5 linked regions of the Homo sapiens genome follow. The protein of the gene in region 4 interacts with the protein of the main gene of each other region in a pairwise test. Each region holds a gene or a part of one and is shown on either strand. Other genes may lie near its edges. The genes, in order: FAM25C, HSD17B11, FAM25G, TTPA and NBPF19.

Evidence for each region.
Region 1: the proteins of TTPA (region 4) and FAM25C interact in a two-hybrid assay, tested with the Homo sapiens proteins (one large-scale study listed by BioGRID).
Region 2: the proteins of TTPA (region 4) and HSD17B11 interact in binary tests that used the Homo sapiens proteins (3 or more experiments, as listed by UniProt).
Region 3: the proteins of TTPA (region 4) and FAM25G interact in a two-hybrid assay, tested with the Homo sapiens proteins (one large-scale study listed by BioGRID).
Region 5: the proteins of TTPA (region 4) and NBPF19 interact in a two-hybrid assay, tested with the Homo sapiens proteins (one large-scale study listed by BioGRID).

What each region holds. Positions count from the first base shown.
Region 1 is NC_000010.11:47,996,982-48,001,050, reverse strand, and holds the start of FAM25C (protein FAM25C), read left to right. Parts: upstream 1-1,259; 5' UTR 1,260-1,285; coding exon 1,286-1,358; intron 1,359-3,311; coding exon 3,312-3,374; intron 3,375-4,069.
Region 2 is NC_000004.12:87,374,179-87,377,694, forward strand, and holds part of HSD17B11 (estradiol 17-beta-dehydrogenase 11 precursor), read right to left. Parts: intron 653-3,516; coding exon 521-652; intron 237-520; coding exon of another isoform or gene 231-236; exon of another isoform or gene 216-230; intron 1-215. UniProt on the Homo sapiens protein: Can convert androstan-3-alpha,17-beta-diol (3-alpha-diol) to androsterone in vitro, suggesting that it may participate in androgen metabolism during steroidogenesis.
Region 3 is NC_000010.11:47,488,899-47,492,952, forward strand, and holds the start of FAM25G (protein FAM25G), read right to left. Parts: upstream 2,803-4,054; 5' UTR 2,777-2,802; coding exon 2,704-2,776; intron 751-2,703; coding exon 688-750; intron 1-687.
Region 4 is NC_000008.11:63,062,042-63,065,557, reverse strand, and holds part of TTPA (alpha-tocopherol transfer protein), read left to right. Parts: intron 1-1,241; coding exon 1,242-1,352; intron 1,353-3,381; coding exon of another isoform or gene 3,382-3,516.
Region 5 is NC_000001.11:149,551,533-149,555,048, forward strand, and holds part of NBPF19 (NBPF family member NBPF19), read left to right. Parts: intron 1-676; coding exon 677-728; intron 729-1,354; coding exon 1,355-1,527; intron 1,528-2,241; coding exon 2,242-2,350; intron 2,351-2,962; coding exon 2,963-3,206; 3' UTR 3,207-3,516.

The sequences.
Region 1 (4,069 bases), on a different chromosome or scaffold from region 4:
CCCACAGTCCAGTAAACTAATCAGGCCCCGACACATCCAGGAGAGCAGCTCCAGGAGCCTGCATTGGGGAGAGAGCCTCAGACCCCTGCCACAGGCCTGCACCCCAGAAGTAGGAGCATGGGAAGACCTCTCCTTGGCTCCTGGCCAGCAGAAGTCACATTCCCCAGCCCTCTGGCTCCAAGGCAGCCTCACGTCCCAGTCACTCCTTGGCACACCCTACCAGTTGGTCAGAGCTCACTGCCAAAGGGCACCTCAATGATGAGTGGAGGGAACAGGTGTTTACCAGGAGCTTGCATGCTTTGTCTCAGGGATGATTAGGGACACAGCCAAGAAGACACGCTATGCCCATTTTACAGATGAGGAAACGGAGGCTCAGGTTGGGCTGGTGACTAAGGGAAGCAGCATGTGGCAGGTGGCTTGAGGCATGTCTGTCCATCATGAGTAACTAGGGAGCAGCCCTGCCACTCCTCATGCGATGCACCAGGAGCCAGGGAAGCTGCTTCCTAGGGGATTCTAGCTAAGGCCAGAAGCATCTCCCTGAGTGGTGGTGGAGGCCTCTGTCTACTCCTCCAGGACTGCCAGGGGATAGGAGGGCACTGCTGACCTCACAGAGCCTCTTGGGTGAGTGAGCATCAGCTGAGTGACACCAGGTGACTACGCTTCTGCCCAGTGCTGTGCCCCCCTCTGACTCGGGCAAGGCACCACCCTGAACGCCCCACCCTGTCCCATGGAGGCCGCAAACTGCTCTGCAGAGCCAGGGTCTCCAGGAATGGGGAGGGCAGTCACCCTCATTCCACTTGTGTTCATGACCCAAAGGACTGCCCAGGTCTCCAGGCCCATAGAACCCCCAAACCTCTTACTAGGCCACACTGGGGACCTTGAGCAGCAGGCTTGGAATCCTAGGCCTTGTCTCCAGGTACATATCAGTACCCAGGCTTGGGAAGCTTTGGTCTCAGGGGGGCTGGCACTCAGGCCCTCTGCCTCAAGGAAGAAGCATGTCCAGATCTCTACTGTCCAGCCCTGCTCCCTGCCCCTATCCTTCACGGGGTCCCTAGGACAGGGTTACAGAAGCCTCATGCTGTCAGGGGATGCTGCCACCCTAGTTCCAGGGTGGCTCCGCCCAGCCCCTTCCTGCTGCCGCCCTCACTGACTCACCTGTCCAGCCTCCTACTGGGCTGGGGTGAGGGCTTATTGCCCCAGAGCCTAGACAGACACCAGAGGCAGCTATAAAAGCATGTTGGGCCAGTCCTCAGCATCCTAGTTCGCCACTGTCTGCTGCCACACGATGCTGGGAGGCCTGGGGAAGCTGGCTGCCGAGGGCCTGGCCCACCGCACCGAGAAGGCCACCGAGGGAGCCAGTGAGGACCCGGGGCTCCTTTCTACCTGGGCTGGGGGGATCTGGGGCAGACTGGGTCTGTGGGAGGCGGATCTACGTAGGCAGGCGAGGACCTGCGGGGAGGCCTTGGCCCCTCAGGAACCCTGGTCTCCTGCTCTACCAAGTCAGCACGGAGTTGAGGGGTGCAGACCTGGGGAGGTCTCCTGGGGGCAGGGCATGAGTCCTGGTGCTGGGTGAACACTGGCAGCTTGGACCCTTCCCTCTGGAAATCTGGGGAGCCTTTCTTGTCAAAACAGCCTATTCTGAATAACCTATGCAGGAAAAGGAAGATGGATTTTTATTTTTACCATAACTTTAAAGCTTCAAAGATTTCTTAACAAGTCACCAAGTCTGTTCAAAGTCAAAAAGGGCATTTTCAATTTCATCCAAGTCCCCTAAAGCATGTTTATTTTTATTTGTATTTGTATTTGAAATGGAGTCTTGCTCTGGCACCCAGGCTGGAGTGTAGTGGTGCGATCTCGGCTCACTGTAACCTTTGCCTCCTGGGTTCAAAGTGATTCTCATGCCTCAGCCTCCTGAGTAGCTGGGATTACAGGCACCCACCACCACGCCCGACTAATTTTTGTATTTTTAGCAGAGACGGGGTTTCGCCATTTTGGCCAGGCTGGTCTCAAACTCCTGCCCTCAAGTGATCCATTCCTCTTGGCCTCCCAAAGTGCTGGGATTACAGGCGTGAACCACTGCACCTGGTCCCGAAGTGTATGTTGTATTCAGAGGTCAGCAGGTATGTGTGGGGAGGCCCAGCCAGGCCCCACTCATGGGTCATCGTGTGAAAAAGTCTTGCCTGAGTTTGTGTCCTCTTTCTAAATGGCAGCAGATGCGTATTTTGTTTTTGACTCTGCAGCTGGTGTGGACCACCTGCTTTAACCTTTCACTAGCCTCTGAGTTTTCTATGATTCCTGTTGGGAGAAAAGCTGAGTGTTGGGAGAAAAGCTGAGGCAGGGCTTGCTAGACTTGCTGGCTCCTTGCTTCTAGCACTGCCATTCTCTCAAGTAGCCATATGTTTCTCATTCACTTGATACACTGTTGCCTTTCAACCTCCACATCCTCACCACCTGTTTCTTTGTTAGATCACCAATAAATAGCGTGGGCTCCCAGAACTCGGGGCCTTCGCAGCCTCCACACTCGCGATAGCGCCCTGCTCCCATTTTCTCTCTCGAACTGTCTCTTTCTCATTCCTTTGACTCCGCTGGACTTGCCGCCCCCGTGACCTGGTGTTGGGTCTCATCATCCCAACAGATTCCCATTCTAAAGATGAGGGAACCAAGAGGTGGAAGGTAGAGTTAGAATAAGAACCATTTCTTCTGACTCTGAAATCCTTCAGTTCTAGCACACTACCACCCACACTTTAAAAAACTCTGAAGTAGGCAGAGAATTCCGTTTTGTTGGAGGAATTGCTTTGAGAGACCTGGTCTTAGTGGATGAGGCTTTGGAAACCAACCTGAGGCAGGCGCTAGCACATCCTGAGAGGGGTGTGACCTGGCACACAGGCCCAGCCTGGGTTTCATGTCTCAGCTGGCAAGACTGCCTGCTCATTGCCATTCCAGGCCGGGCAGGGCCAAGGGGCTTCAGGGACCCATGCCCTCATGGGGCTCACTGAGCTCGTCTCCCGGTAGCCAAGGCCCTGGCGTCTCCAAATGAAGCCAGCTGTGGGGGAAGGTCCTTCTCATGAGCCAGTCTGTCCTGGCTGGGGGTGGCATCCCAGAGCCCCATCTAGGATGCCCAGGGATGTATAGGTCTGTTGTGAGGATAAGCCAGCCCTGAGCCCTCACCCTGGACTGGGAGGGCAGTGGGCCTGCTCTGAGCCCTCACCCTGGACTGGGAGGGCAGCGGCTCTGCTCTGAACCCTCACCCTGGACTCAGGGGCAGCCGGCCTGCTCTGAGCCCTCACCCTGGACTTGTCTCCTCTGTTCAGTTCATGCCGTGGAGGAAGTGGTGAAGGAGGTGGTGGGACATGCCAAGGAGACTGGAGAGAAAGGTACAGCCGGCTGAGGTCGGGCAGGGAAGGAGGGAGGGAGGAAGGGAAGCTAGGTGCTGGGCCAACCTGTTCTTTGACTAACCAGGTCAAACTCTGCCCCTAATGTTGCAGCCTTTCAGAGCCTCTTGGCTGGGGCAGTTATCTATGCTCATCAGAGGCCACAGACCGTACTGCGTTAGGACACTGTCTAGATGGTTCTCTCTGTGGAATAAGAAGACAAAGTCACACAAGACTATGTGACAGCACACTGGGACAAAACATTTAACATGGCAGGGCACGGTGGCTCATGCCTGTAATCCCAGCACTTTGGGAGGCTGAGGAGGGCGGATCACGAGGTCAGGAGATCGAGACCATCCTGGCTAACACGGTGAAACCCCGTCTCTACTAAAAATACATAAAAATTAGCCGGGCATGGTGGTGGGTGCCTATAGTCCCAGCTACTTGGGAGGCTGAGGCAGGAGAATGGTGTGTACCTGGGAGGCAGAGCTTGCAGTGAGCCTAGATCATGCCACTGCACTCCAGCCTGGGCTACAGAGCGAAACTCGGTCTCAAAAAAATTGCTGGGGGCGGTGGCTCACGCCTGTAATCCCAGCACTTTGGGAGGCTGAGGTGGGCGGATCATGAGGTCAGGAGATCCAGACCACGGTGAAACCCCATCTCTACTAAAAATACAAAAAATTAGCTGGGCACGGTGG
Region 2 (3,516 bases), on a different chromosome or scaffold from region 4:
GCTGGGCATGTTAATGCCTGTAGTCCCAGCTACTTGAGGGGGCTGAGGTGGGAGGATCACTTGAGCCTGGGAAGTTGGGGCTGCAGTGAGATGAGATTGCATCACTGCACTCCAGCCTTGGCAACAGAGTGAGACCCTGTCTAAAAAAGAAAAAAGAGAATCTGAAAGCAAACTGGATTCACCTTTATAAAATCACAGACGATGACTCGGATGGTCCCCAACTCCTTTCTTTATCTCTAAATAGGATCACACAGAAATGTGAGAACCTAGCTTAGAATTAAAACATATACAACACCTGACATTTATTATTAATTTATTATTGTTATTATTAATGTTGTCAGTGAGGAAGAATGATAGAATTTGGTCATAGCATGAAAAATGATCTCTTTGTATAATGTTATCCCTGGTGCCTGGAGAAAACTTTAGCATTGATTTAATACTTCCTTATGTCTGCTAAAAGCCCCACTTTAATCTTTGGGATTTTCAAAAGGAACATTTTTGTAAAAGAAGCCATACTCACCCAGAAATGTGCAAGTACATTAACTTCAAAAGTCTTTTCAATCTGAGGATCTTGTGTAGCAAACAAATCTGATGTATAGACTACACCAGCATTATTTACTAAAATACTAACATCTCCAATTTCTGCCTTCACCTTCAAAAAATAAAATAAGAAAAGTAAATTCATTAAGAGGTATGAGGGTAAGTTTATACACAATGGCTATTTTTTTTTTTTGAGACGGATTCTTGCTCTGTTGCCCAGGCTGCAGTACAGTGGCGAAATCTTGGCTCACTGCAACCTCCACCTCCCGGGTTCAAGAGATTCTCTGGCCTCAGCTTCCCAAGTAGCAGGGACTGAAGGCTCATGCAACCACGCCACACCTGGCTAATTTTTATATTTTTAGTAGAGATTGGATTTCACCATGTTAGCTAGGCTAGTCTTGAACTCCTGATCTCAAGTGATCTGCCCACCTCAGCCTCCCAAAGTGCTGGGATTACAGGCATGAGTCACTGTTCCCGTCTTGTACGCAATGACTCTTGTTTTTCTGCTAGATCTGGATAAAAGTGATTTTGCAATCCATGTGTCAACAGGGGAAAAAAATCCTTTTTATTTTATGCACTTATGTCCAAAATAGATCTATCTTCAAGTGTATCAGGTGGAAATTTTCTTTTGCAATTTAGTCTCTTGACTTAGTTCTATTGACTATAGATCAAGAGGCATTTGGCTAAGTAGCATTTTTTTTAAAACATTACTTCAAAGGGTAAGCAAAAAAAGTTAAATTAGGCTGGGTGCGGTGGCTCACGCCTGTAATCCCAGTATTTTGGGAGGCCGAGGCAGGTGGATCACCTGTGGTCCGGAGTTTGAGACCAGCATGACCAACATGGAGAAACCCTGTCTCTACTAAAAATACAAAATTAGCTGTACATGGTGGCGGGCGCCTATAATCCCAGCTACTCAGGAGGCTGAGGCAGGAGAATCGCTTGAACCCGAGAGGCGGAAGTTGCGGTGAGCTGAGATCGCGCCATCGCACTCCGGCCTGGGCAACAAAAGCAAAACTCCGTCTCAAAAAATAAAAGTAAAACTAATGTGGCAAAATCAGGGACTACTACAGAGAATTGTGGAAAACTGATTACACTATTAAGCTGGCCACATTTTCTATTTATTTCTGTTTATTTTCTGTTCTGTTGTTCAATCGCTCTCCATTAGGTGGCAGTAGGCTTAAGGGTGAAGAGTGGTTTCCTTGGACCTTGAGTTTGGGCTCTGCCAGTCACTGTTGGACCTTGACCAAGTTACTTAACCTCTTAAAACTTCAATTCTTCCTCTGCAAAATAGAGATACTAATACAAGTTCCTTGTGAGTCGTTGTGGAAACAAATGAAATAATGCATGTAAAGGAGCTAACACTGTATCTAGTACACACAGTAAACTGCTATTACTATCATTATAATTATTTCAAAACCATTTATACTTGTCTACAAGTAACATGTTTTAAGATTCTCTTCTTGACCTGCTCAGGTGTCTATGAGGGTACTTAATATACAAATATTGGCCAAATGAGGTGGCTCACGCCTCTAATCCCAGCATTTGGGAGGCCAAGGCAGGCAGATCACTTGAGGTCAGGAATCGGAGACCAGCCTGACCCACATGGTGAAACCCCATCTCTACTAAAAATACAAAAATTAGTGGGGCATGGTGGTGTACGCCTGTAATCCCAGCTACTCGAGAGGCTGAGGCAGGAGAATCGCTTGAACCCAGGAGGCGGAGGTTGCAGTGAGCTGAGATCGTGCCACTGTGCTGCAGCCTGGGTGACAGACGAGATTTCATCTCAAAAAAAAAAAAAAAAAAACCCAAAAAACAAACAAAAAACCCCCAAAATATAGAAATATGAGGTAAATAATATTAAAATACATATGTGTGTTTTTCTAATATATATGCATGGTATGTGTGTTTTCTCTTGAAAATTCTATTTTGGTATTGATCCAGAAGGAAGAACATTTGAGAAATAAAATGGTTATGTGGAAGGGCTTATGTAAACCCTTATGGCCAGATTTCAAAGGTTGTTGCAGCTATCATTGGTGAAATGATTTCAGTTGAGGAAATATAAACAAAAGAACAAGGCTAGCTGCTAAGAGCAATAGAAGGCATCCACTGGACTGTAAAGACTATTTGTAGGCTGGGCACGGTGGCTCACATCTATATTCCCAGCACTTTGGGAGGCCAAGGTGGGTGGATCACTTGAGGCCAGGAGTTCAAGACCAGCCTGATTGACATGGTGAAACTGCATCTCTATTGAAAACACAAAAATTAGGTGAGTGTGGTGGTGGGTTCCTGTAGTCCCAGCTACTCGGAAGGTTGAACTGGGAGGATTGCTTGCACCTGGGAGGTGGAGGTTGCAGTGAGCTGAGATTGCACCATTGCACGCCCGCCTGGGTGACAGAGCAAGACTCTGTCTCAAAAAGAAAGAAAAATATTTTTAAAAAAAGACTATTTGTAGGCCGGGCACAGTGGCTCACACCTGTAATCCCAGCACTTTGGGAGGCTGAGGCAGGTGGATCATGAGGTCAGGAGTTCAAGACCAGCCTGACCAACATGGTGAAACCCAGTCTCTACTAAAAGTACAAAAATTAGCTAGGCGTGGTGACGTGCACCTGTAATCCCAGCTGCTCAGGAGGCTGAGGCAGGAGAATCGCCTGAACCCGGGAGGCGGAGGTTGCAGTGAGCTGAGATTGCGCCACTGTGCTCTAGCCTGAGCGACAGAGCGAGACTCTGTCTCAAAAAAAAAAAAGACTATACTCAAAAGGGGACCATTACAGGTAATGTAACTTTTTTTCAAAATAATTGTTATATCTTCTGGACTAGAATATAATCAATAACTATCTCTTCAACTAAGAAAGATCATAGAATCTTGATGCTTAAGCCCTACTTTTTATAAGATTGGAGTACCATAATTCCAAGGGGTAGCAATGCAAAAATACCTTATATGAGATTTTTATGGTTCCATAAGCAACTAAGATGCTT
Region 3 (4,054 bases), on a different chromosome or scaffold from region 4:
TTGTATTTTTAGTAGAGATGCGGTTTCACCGTGGTCTGGATCTCCTGACCTCATGATCCGCCCACCTCAGCCTCCCAAAGTGCTGGGATTACAGGCGTGAGCCACCGCCCCCAGCAATTATTTTTTTCTTTTTTTTTGAGACCGAGTCTTGCTCTGTAGCCCAGGCTGGAGTGCAGTGGCATGATCTAGGCTCACTGCAAGCTCTGCCTCCCAGGTACACACCATTCTCCTGCCTCAGCCTCCCAAGTAGCTGGGACTATAGGCACCCACCACCATGCCCGGCTAATTTTTATGTATTTTTAGTAGAGACGGGGTTTCACCGTGTTAGCCAGGATGGTCTCGATCTCCTGACCTCATGATCCGCCCTCCTCAGCCTCCCAAAGTGCTGGGATTACAGGCATGAGCCACCGCACCCTGCCATGTTAAATGTTTTGTCCCAGTGTGCTGTCACATAGTCTTGTGTGACTTTGTCTTCTTATTCCACAGAGAGAACCATCTAGACAGTGTCCTAACGCAGTACAGTCTGTGGCCTCTGATGAGCATAGATAACTGCCCCAGCCAAGAGGCTCTGAAAGGCTGCAACATTAGGGGCAGAGTTTGACCTGGTTAGTCAAAGAACAGGTTGGCCCAGCACCTAGCTTCCCTTCCTCCCTCCCTCCTTCCCTGCCCGACCTCAGCCGGCTGTACCTTTCTCTCCAGTCTCCTTGGCATGTCCCACCACCTCCTTCACCACTTCCTCCACGGCATGAACTGAACAGAGGAGACAAGTCCAGGGTGAGGGCTCAGAGCAGGCCGGCTGCCCCCGAGTCCAGGGTGAGGGTTCAGAGCAGAGCCGCTGCCCTCCCAGTCCAGGGTGAGGGCTCAGAGCAGGCCCACTGCCCTCCCAGTCCAGGGTGAGGGCTCAGGGCTGGCTTATCCTCACAACAGACCTATACATCCCTGGGCATCCTAGATGGGGCTCTGGGGTGCCACCCCCAGCCAGGACAGACTGACTCATGAGAAGGACCTTCCCCCACAGCTGGCTTCATTTGGAGACGCCAGGGCCTTGGCTGCTGGGAGACGAGCTCAATGAGCCCCATGAGGGCATGGGTCCCTGAAGCCCCTTGGCCCTGCCCGGCCTGGAATGGCAATGAGCAGGCAGTCTTGCCAGCTGAGACATGAAGCCCAGGCTGGGCCTGTGTGCCAGGTCACACCCCTCTCAGGATGTGCTAGCGCCTGCCTCAGGTTGGTTTCCAAAGCCTCATCCACTAAGACCAGGTCTCTCAAAGCAATTCCTCCAACAAAACGGAATTCTCTGCCTACTTCAGAGTTTTTTAAAGTGTGGGTGGTAGCGTGCTAGAACTGAAGGATTTCAGAGTCAGAAGAAATGGTTCTTATTCTAACTCTACCTTCCACCTCTTGGTTCCCTCATCTTTAGAATGGGAATCTGTTGGGATGATGAGACCCAACACCAGGTCACGGGGGCGGCAAGTCCAGCGGAGTCAAAGGAATGACAAAGAGACAGTTCGAGAGAGAAAATGGGAGCAGGGCGCTATCGCGAGTGTGGAGGCTGCGAAGGCCCCGAGTTCTGGGAGCCCACGCTATTTATTGGTGATCTAACAAAGAAACAGGTGGTGAGGATGTGGAGGTTGAAAGGAAACAGTGTATCAAGTGAATGAGAAACATATGGCTACTTGAGAGAATGGCAGTGCTAGAAGCAAGGAGCCAGCAAGTCTAGCAAGCCCTGCCTCAGCTTTTCTCCCAACGCTGAGCTTTTCTCCCAACAGGAATCATAAAAAACTCAGAGGCTAGTGAAAGGTTAAAGCAGGTGGTCCACACCAGCTGCAGAGTCAAAAACAAAATACGCATCTGCTGCCATTTAGAAAGAGGACACAAACTCAGGCAAGACTTTTTCACACGATGACCCATGAGTGGGGCCTGGCTGGGCCTCCCCACACATACCTGCTGACCTCTGAATACAACATACACTTCGGGACCAGGTGCAGTGGTTCACGCCTGTAATCCCAGCACTTTGGGAGGCCAAGAGGAATGGATCACTTGAGGTCAGGAGTTTGAGACCAGCCTGGCCAAAATGGCGAAACCCCGTCTCTGCTAAAAATACAAAAATTAGTCGGGCGTGGTGGTGGGTGCCTGTAATCCCAGCTACTCAGGAGGCTGAGGCATGAGAATCACTTTGAACCCAGGAGGCAAAGGTTACAGTGAGCCGAGATCGCACCACTACACTCCAGCCTGGGTGCCAGAGCAAGACTCCATTTCAAATACAAATACAAATAAAAATAAACATGCTTTAGGGGACTTGGATGAAATTGAAAATGCCCTTTTTGACTTTGAACAGACTTGGTGACTTGTTAAGAAATCTTTGAAGCTTTAAAGTTATGGTAAAAATAAAAATCCATCTTCCTTTTCCTGCATAGGTTATTCAGAATAGGCTGTTTTGACAAGAAAGGCTCCCCAGATTTCCAGAGGGAAGGGTCCAAGCTGCCAGTGTTCACCCAGCACCAGGACTCATGCCCTGCCCCCAGGAGACCTCCCCAGGTCTGCACCCCTCAACTCCGTGCTGACTTGGTAGAGCAGGAGACCAGGGTTCCTGAGGGGCCAAGGCCTCCCCGCAGGTCCTCGCCTGCCTACGTAGATCCGCCTCCCACAGACCCAGTCTGCCCCAGATCCCCCCAGCCCAGGTAGAAAGGAGCCCTGGGTCCTCACTGGCTCCCTCGGTGGCCTTCTCGGTGCGGTGGGCCAGGCCCTCGGCAGCCAGCTTCCCCAGGCCTCCCAGCATCGTGTGGCAGCAGACAGTGGCGAACTAGGATGCTGAGGACTGGCCCAACATGCTTTTATAGCTGCCTCTGGTGCCTATCTAGGCTCTGGGGCAATAAGCCCTCACCCCAGCCCAGTAGGAGGCTGGACAGGTGAGTCAGTGAGGGCGGCAGCAGGAAGGGGCTGGGCGGAGCCACCCTGGAACTAGGGTGGCAGCATCCCCTGACAGCATGAGGCTTCTGTAACCCTGTCCTAGGGACCCCGTGAAGGATAGGGGCAGGGAGCAGGGCTGGACAGTAGAGATCTGGACATGCTTCTTCCTTGAGGCAGAGGGCCTGAGTGCCAGCCCCCCTGAGACCAAAGCTTCCCAAGCCTGGGTACTGATATGTACCTGGAGACAAGGCCTAGGATTCCAAGCCTGCTGCTCAAGGTCCCCAGTGTGGCCTAGTAAGAGGTTTGGGGGTTCTATGGGCCTGGAGACCTGGGCAGTCCTTTGAGTCATGAACACAAGTGGAATGAGGGTGACTGCCCTCCCCATTCCTGGAGACCCTGGCTCTGCAGAGCAGTTTGCGGCCTCCATGGGACAGGGTGGGGCGTTCAGGGTGGTGCCTTGCCCGAGTCAGAGGGGGGCACAGCACTGGGCAGAAGCGTAGTCACCTGGTGTCGCTCAGCTGATGCTCACTCACCCAAGAGGCTCTGTGAGGTCAGCAGTGCCCTCCTATCCCCTGGCAGTCCTGGAGGAGTAGACAGAGGCCTCCACCACCACTCAGGGAGATGCTTCTGGCCTTAGCTAGAATCCCCTAGGAAGCAGCTTCCCTGGCTCCTGGTGCATCGCATGAGGAGTGGCAGGGCTGCTCCCTAGTTACTCATGATGGACAGACATGCCTCAAGCCACCTGCCACATGCTGCTTCCCTTAGTCACCAGCCCAACCTGAGCCTCCGTTTCCTCATCTGTAAAATGGGCATAGCGTGCCTTCTTGGCTGTGTCCCTAATCATCCCTGAGGCAAAGCATGCAAGCTCCTGGTAAACACCTGTTCCCTCCACTCATCATTGAGGTGCCCTTTGGCAGTGAGCTCTGACCAACTGGTAGGGTGTGCCAAGGAGTGACTGGGACGTGAGGCTGCCTTGGAGCCAGAGGGCTGGGGAATGTGACTTCTGCTGGCCAGGAGCCAAGGAGAGGTCTTCCCATGCTCCTACTTCTGGGGTGCAGGCCTGTGGCAGGGGTCTGAGGCTCTCTCCCCAATGCAGGCTCCTGGAGCTGCTCTCCTGGATGTGTCGGGGCCTGATTAGTTTACTGGA
Region 4 (3,516 bases):
TTGGTAGGTGTATATTGATATCTTTTTTTTCCAAAAGGTTTTTAAAGTGGTCATCATCTTTGACTCAGTAATTCTATTTCTGGGAAACTAGCTAAGGAATAATCTTTAATATATTAAAGATTGCGTATAATAATAATAGCTTACTATGTGCCAGGTACTTTGCTAAGTGTTTCAAATGCATTATCTTTTAATGTCCACACTGAGCCTATGACATATGACTATTGTATTTTCCCACTTTACAATTAATAAACTATATCCGAGAAGTGACATAGCGATGCCCAGGCACACACAGTTTGCCAGTAGTGAAGTGAGAATTCCAGCCCAGGTCACCTGAATGTAAAAGTCGTGCTTATAACCACCACTTCTCCTATACACAAAGACAGTTACTGCAGCATCAATTTCAGTAAAGAAGTAAAATAAATAGTTTATTAGTCCAGAAAATAGAAACATGGTTACTTAAAAAATGTACATTCATTTGATGGATTCTTGCAACAATAATAAAACATGATATTTGCAAAAGCTGTATTGTATCAGTGGAACACAACGGGATGAAAATTATTTAGAAAGTATATTAGCAATTATGTTTAAAAGAAAATTATGCATAGAAGGGATTTGGAAGGACAATCCCCAAATTAATAATACATCTCTGAAAGTGATGCATGGAAAAAATAAAAGAACTTCACATAAAAGAACCTTGGAATGAAAGGTCTCTGTATTAATAATACAACTTGTAGGTAGGAAAACCATCTTTTTCCTTCAACTCTTAACTTCTTAAACTTTCTAAATAAGCCTATATTACTTTGATGCTAAAGACATATACCAATGTCAAAGTTTAAAAGTGTGTGTTTATTGTGCTAGTCTTTCAATATTTGTGATTTTTTTTCTCAAAATAAACATTTTTTGGGAAAAAGTTAAATATAAATTTCCAAATGACTCATTGGTTCGTTAAAAGAACATCTATATGTGATGGGAAAGGAATTTTCTGGTGAAAGTGTGCAGATATTTTGTAAAATACTTTGCCAAATCTATAAGGAGAAACCTTTTTAGAGATCTTTACTTAATCTAGTGACAGTGAACTGTAAGCCAGGCTTTTGTGCTGATGGAATAAATAATTTTGAAGATAAAATCACACACTTTAGATATTTCCATAAGCTTAGCAAGTGTTCAAAGAAGAAACTTGACATTAGGTATCAGATTGTAATATTTATGTTTTGTTATTAAGATTTTTTTATTTTCAAAAGGATTCATTTCCATTGAAAGTTCGTGGCATCCATTTGATAAATGAACCAGTAATTTTCCATGCTGTCTTTTCCATGATCAAACCATTCCTGACTGAAAAAATTAAGGAACGGGTGAGTAAAATATATTCAAGTCTGTGTTCCTCTACACCAAACATTCCAACCCTTTTTAATTTAAGGATTGCTTTATCATCTTTCCTCGTACCTGCCCATCTATATCATTAGCCCAATATTTTGAATATTTATCTAACAAGCCAACTAAAAAAAAGTAAATTAAAATTTACTTTTAATTTATAAAAATCAAGTATATTGGTTGTAAGACTGTGGGGTAACTGGGCTTTTCATACACTGCTGGTTGGAATGCTTAATGGTATATTCCTATAGAGGGCAGTGTGGCAAAGACATCAAAATCACTGTCTTGAATTACCTATACCTAAACAAAATTACATATGCTAGAGGAGTCACAGCAGCAGAAGACTGAAAACCAGGAAGTGTTCACCATTAGGGCATTGGTTAAATAAACATCTACACAACAGAAAACAACGAGATTGCAGGATGTTTTGTAAACTGAAATAAACAAAATGTGGAATAGTGTTTATGGCATGCTACCTTTTGTATACAAAGGGGAGAAATAAGAATATATTTCATAAATTTACATTAAAAGGATATACAAAAAATAATATAAGTGGATATCTATAGGGAACAAGAGAAGAGGTGTGAACTACAGTAGATGAGAATAGGTTTGGGAGCAAGATCTCTCACTGTGTATCTTTTATCTTGTTTTGATTTGTAACCATATGAATTTATTATTAATGCAAATAAAAATAAACATTTTTCTTAAACAGTGAAGCCTACTTAACGGTTTCAGTGTAACTGAGAACCACGGTAACTGAGGTATATGACTTAATGTCATGCTAGTTAGAGCAAAGATACTGGATTTTTTCTTCTTTACCTAGCCTATGGAGCCTTATCTCAGAAAAAGCATCTCATATATCTTAGACTTTTTGAAAGGTTGAAAATAGAGTCTGCGTTCTCAAGAATGGCAACCATTCTAAACTAATCTGTAAAGAAGAATTTTTAGAGCATCTATTTAGACAAACATTGGCATCATCTAATGCCTTGAACACAAAACAATTTGTAAAGGTTTTAACAGTTTAAATCTAAAAAATCACTGAAATGTCAGCAGTGATAATATAAACTGTAATAGCACATTTGGAATTTTAGAAACGATGTTCTTTCATATTAAGAAAATATAACATCTTATACCTGGTCAGAAAGTTATGACCCTAGAGCTTCTTTAGAGGTTATGCAGTGGATGCTTCTGTTTGTCTTCAAGAACCACCCTTAAATTGCCTGCTTTAGCAAAAATGGCCACTTTCAGCTACTTTTCATTCTAGTATTTTTATACAAATCAATTTTGTTTGTTCATTTTTTTCTCTCTTCAGTGTAACTTGATAATATCTGGCTTCCCTCTGTTTAATTCTTAGAGATCTAAAAATAACTATTTCTATTTTGAGTAATATTTTAGATAAAAACAAAAACAAGAATAAACTGAACCTAAGAAATAGGAGAATATGGAGAAAAAAGCAAAAGTAAAAAGTTGAGAAGTTAGGGGAAGGATGTCAGTGAAAGTTAGTTGACGGGAAACAGACTTGCCAAAATAGGGAGAAAAAAACTCTGATCCAGCCACTTTTTTCCTTTTTAACTTTTTGGCAATGCCCCATACATTTTCTTATTTTGCCCCTTCCTGAGGAGATAGAATTTCTTCTCAATTACCTGATAATATTTTACATATTTCAGAAAAAATTAAAGATTGGCTTTGTGAGTTTCCTAAGTGAGTATAGGAAACTCATTTCATCCATCAAACCTCATATCCCAGCACATAATAGATGCTTATTAAATGATTGTTGAATACATAGAGGAACATTTTGCCCTAGAAAGTGAAAAAAGGTTATTTATTTATTTTAGCAGGTATGCTTTTGGTTCAAGTTTCTACGGCTTTCTCTTAACTTCAGGGCATTCTATGATCAATTTTATAGTTTAAAATATTTGAAAAGTTAAGGTTCTCAACTATCATAATTGTTTTTTAATACTTTTTTAAAATTTGACTTTTTAATTCTTTTAATTCTTTTTTTTTTTTTAGACAGGGCCTCACTTTGTGCAGTGGCACGATCTTGGCTCACTGCAACCTCCACCTCCTGGGCTCAAGCAATCCTCCTGCCTCAGCCCACCAAGTATCTGGGACTACAGTCCTGCACCACCACGCCCAGCTAATTTT
Region 5 (3,516 bases), on a different chromosome or scaffold from region 4:
ACCTGGTCTTCCAGATAGGGGTGATATTCCTGTTCCAAGTGGCCCTTACTGACCCGAGAGATGTCATTGCCGCAGGCAGGACCTATGGGCGCATATAGGTTGTAATGAAACTGTAGTCTCAGTTGGAAGCCTAGACATGAAATGGGTCAGTGAGCAAGGCTCTATTCCTAGTCTCCAGCCATGCCTGTGGCAACCTGAGCCCGCTCTCAGCACATTGGACCCAGGCAGATGTAAAAAATTCACAGAACTATGATTTGGACTCAAGGGTTTGTAGATTTCCTCCTTCATTCTAATTTCAGTGTCTAAAATTCTTACATCCATGAACGAGCTGGGCATTTGATGAGACAGGGCTGAATACTGCAGTTTTCCTCCTAGAAATCATCTGGGGCATTTTCTTTGAACTGATGGGAACAATAAGGCATAACTGTTTGCACAAACTTGGGATAAGTGATTTTGGGATAACGATCTTCCAGAATGGGGATATTTCACCCTTGGTTCTGAGATGCAAACCAAAGAATATCATGACCAGCTTTCAGGCCTCCTGAAGTATATCTCTCACATTGTCCTGTTCTCATGCTGAGGAGCCTGAGATCCCTGTGTGGGGATTAGACAGTGGACTGTTATGGGTGTAGGTGAATTGGCTTATTTTGTCTGTCCCTGTCTGAATGTATTGCAGGAATTAAAAAGGACCAAGAAGAGGAAGAAGACCAAGGCCCACCATGCCCCAGGTAACTGAGCAATTGTGAACAGCTACTTCTGTGTTGACATCTGGAGACTCCTGGTTCAGGGAAAACAGAGCGGGCTGACATTATCGATTACATCTTTTCAAGCAAGCCTGAATTATTCCTACTAACATTGCTGTTGGTTTTCATTGCAGTAGATATTTAGGTTTCCATTTCTTCCTCCCCTTATCATTTACTAACCTACTGTAGGTGGACCAGACTTCAAAAACTGTATTCTCATGGCGACTGCATGGAAACTTGAACACATTTTATGGAAAATTATTGAGCACAGTCTTTTCATGATCACTGTATGCTGTGTGTCCTGAGGGCACTAACTCAGAGTGTCCTGTTACTCCCTCATCAGTGTGTCACCTGGACAATTCACTGAGCTCGTTCTCTCTCTCTCTGTGTGTGTGTCTGTGTGTGTGTGTGTGTCTATCTGTCTTTCTCTTTCATTCTTTTCCATTTGGCCCTGTTCTGTCCCAACATGAAGGCAATAATTTGTTACCTCATTAATGGATCTATCCTTTTACTTTCTTAACCACTTCCTTATGCTACCCATGAAACCTAGTTGGGGCTCTGTTGTGTGTGATTTCCCCTGGCTTATTCTTTACTTTTTCCTCCTTTTCCAGGCTCAGCAGGGAGCTGCTGGAGGTAGTAGAGCCTGAAGTCTTGCAGGACTCACTGGATAGATGTTATTCAACTCCTTCCAGTTGTCTTGAACAGCCTGACTCCTGCCAGCCCTATGGAAGTTCCTTTTATGCATTGGAGGAAAAACATGTTGGCTTTTCTCTTGACGTGGGAGGTGAGTACCTTTCTATGAAGGTGATAAGCATCCACTGAGTCTTCCATATAAAGATCATATTCCTGCTCCAAGTGGCCATTACTGAGCTGAGAGATGTCATTGCCGCAGTGAGGACCTATAGGCACATGTAGGTTGAATGAAACTCTAGTTCTACCTGGAAGCCCAGACATGGGATGGGTCAGTGAGCATGGCTCTCTTCCTAGTCTCAGGCCATACCTGTGGCACTCTGATTCTACTCTCATGACATTGGACCTGGGCAGATGTGACAAATTCAGAGAACTATGATTTTGACTCAAGGGTTTGTAGATTTCCTTTTTCACTCTAATTTCAGTGTCTAAAGTCCTCACAACCATGAACAATCTGAGTATTTGATGAGACAGGGCTAAATATTGCAGTTTTTCTCCCAGAAATCATTTGAGGGTATTTGCTTTAAATTGATTGGAAAAATATGGCATAACTGTTTGCACAAACTTGGGACAAATGATATTGGGATAACGATCTACTAGAATAGGGACATTTTACCCACAGTTTCTGGGAGAAAAACCGAGGAATTTCTATCATGACCAGCCTTCAGGCCTCCTGAAATATATCTCTCACAGTGTCCTATTCTTATGCTGAGGAGCCTGAGGTCCCTGTGTGAGGATTAGACAGTGGATTGTTATGTGTGTAGGGGAATCAGCTTAATGTGTCTGTCCATGTCTGAATTTATTGCAGAAATTGAAAAGAAGGGGAAGGGGAAGAAAAGAAGGGGAAGAAGATCAAAGAAGGAAAGAAGAAGGGGAAGAAAAGAAGGGGAAGAAGATCAAAACCCACCATGCCCCAGGTGACTTTCAGCAATTGTGGATGCTTAATTCTGTGTTAACACCTGGAGGCAACAGATTCAGGGAAACCAGAGTGTGTTTGATGTCATGTTTTCAACGAAGGCTGAATTACTCCTACTGTCATTGCTGTTGGTTTTCATTGCAGTAGATGTTTAGGTTTCCATTTCTTCCTCCCCTTATCATTTACTAGCGTACCATAGGTTGACCATACTTCAAAAGCTGTACTCTCATGGCCACTGCATCGAATTTTGAGCATATTTTATGGAAAACTATTGAGCTCACTCTTTTCATGATCACAGTTTGCTGTGTGTCATGAGGGCACTAACTCAGAGTGTCCTTTTACTCCCTTACCAGTATGTCACCTGGCCAATTCACTAGGTCACTTTCTCTCTGTCTCTGTCTCTGTCTCTCTCTCTCTGTCTTTCTCTTTCATTGTTTTCTACCTGGCCCTGTTCTATCCCAACATAAAGGCAATAAATTTTTTTTTTTACCTCATTAATGGATCTATCCTTTTTCTTTTCTAACCACTTCCTTATGTGACTTCTGAAATCTAGTGGGGCTCTGTGGTGTCTGATTTTCCCTGGCTGCTTCTTTAGTTTTGTCTCCTTTTCCAGGCTCAACAGCGTGCTGATGGAAGTGGAAGAGCCTGAAGTCTTACAGGACTCACTGGATGGATGTTATTCGACTCCGTCAATGTACTTTGAACTACCTGACTCATTCCAGCACTACAGAAGTGTGTTTTACTCATTTGAGGAAGAGCATATCAGCTTCGCCCTTTACTTGGACAATAGGTTTTTTACTTTGACGGTGACAAGTCTCCATCTGGTGTTCCAGATGTTAGTCATATTCCCACAATAGGCAGCCCTTACTAAGCCGAGAGATGTCATTCCTGCAGGCAGGACCTATAGGCACGTGAAGATTTGAATGAAACTACAGTTCCATTTGGAAGCCCAGACATAGGATGGGTCAGTGGGCATGGCTCTTTTCCTATTCTCAAACCATGCCAGTGGCAACCTGTGCTCAGTCTGAAGACAATGGACCCACGTTAGGTGTGACACGTTCACATAACTGTGCAGCACATGCCGGGAGTGATCAGTCGGACATTTTAATTTGAACCACGTATCTTTGGGTAGCTACAAAATTCCTCAGGGATTTCATTTTGCAGGCA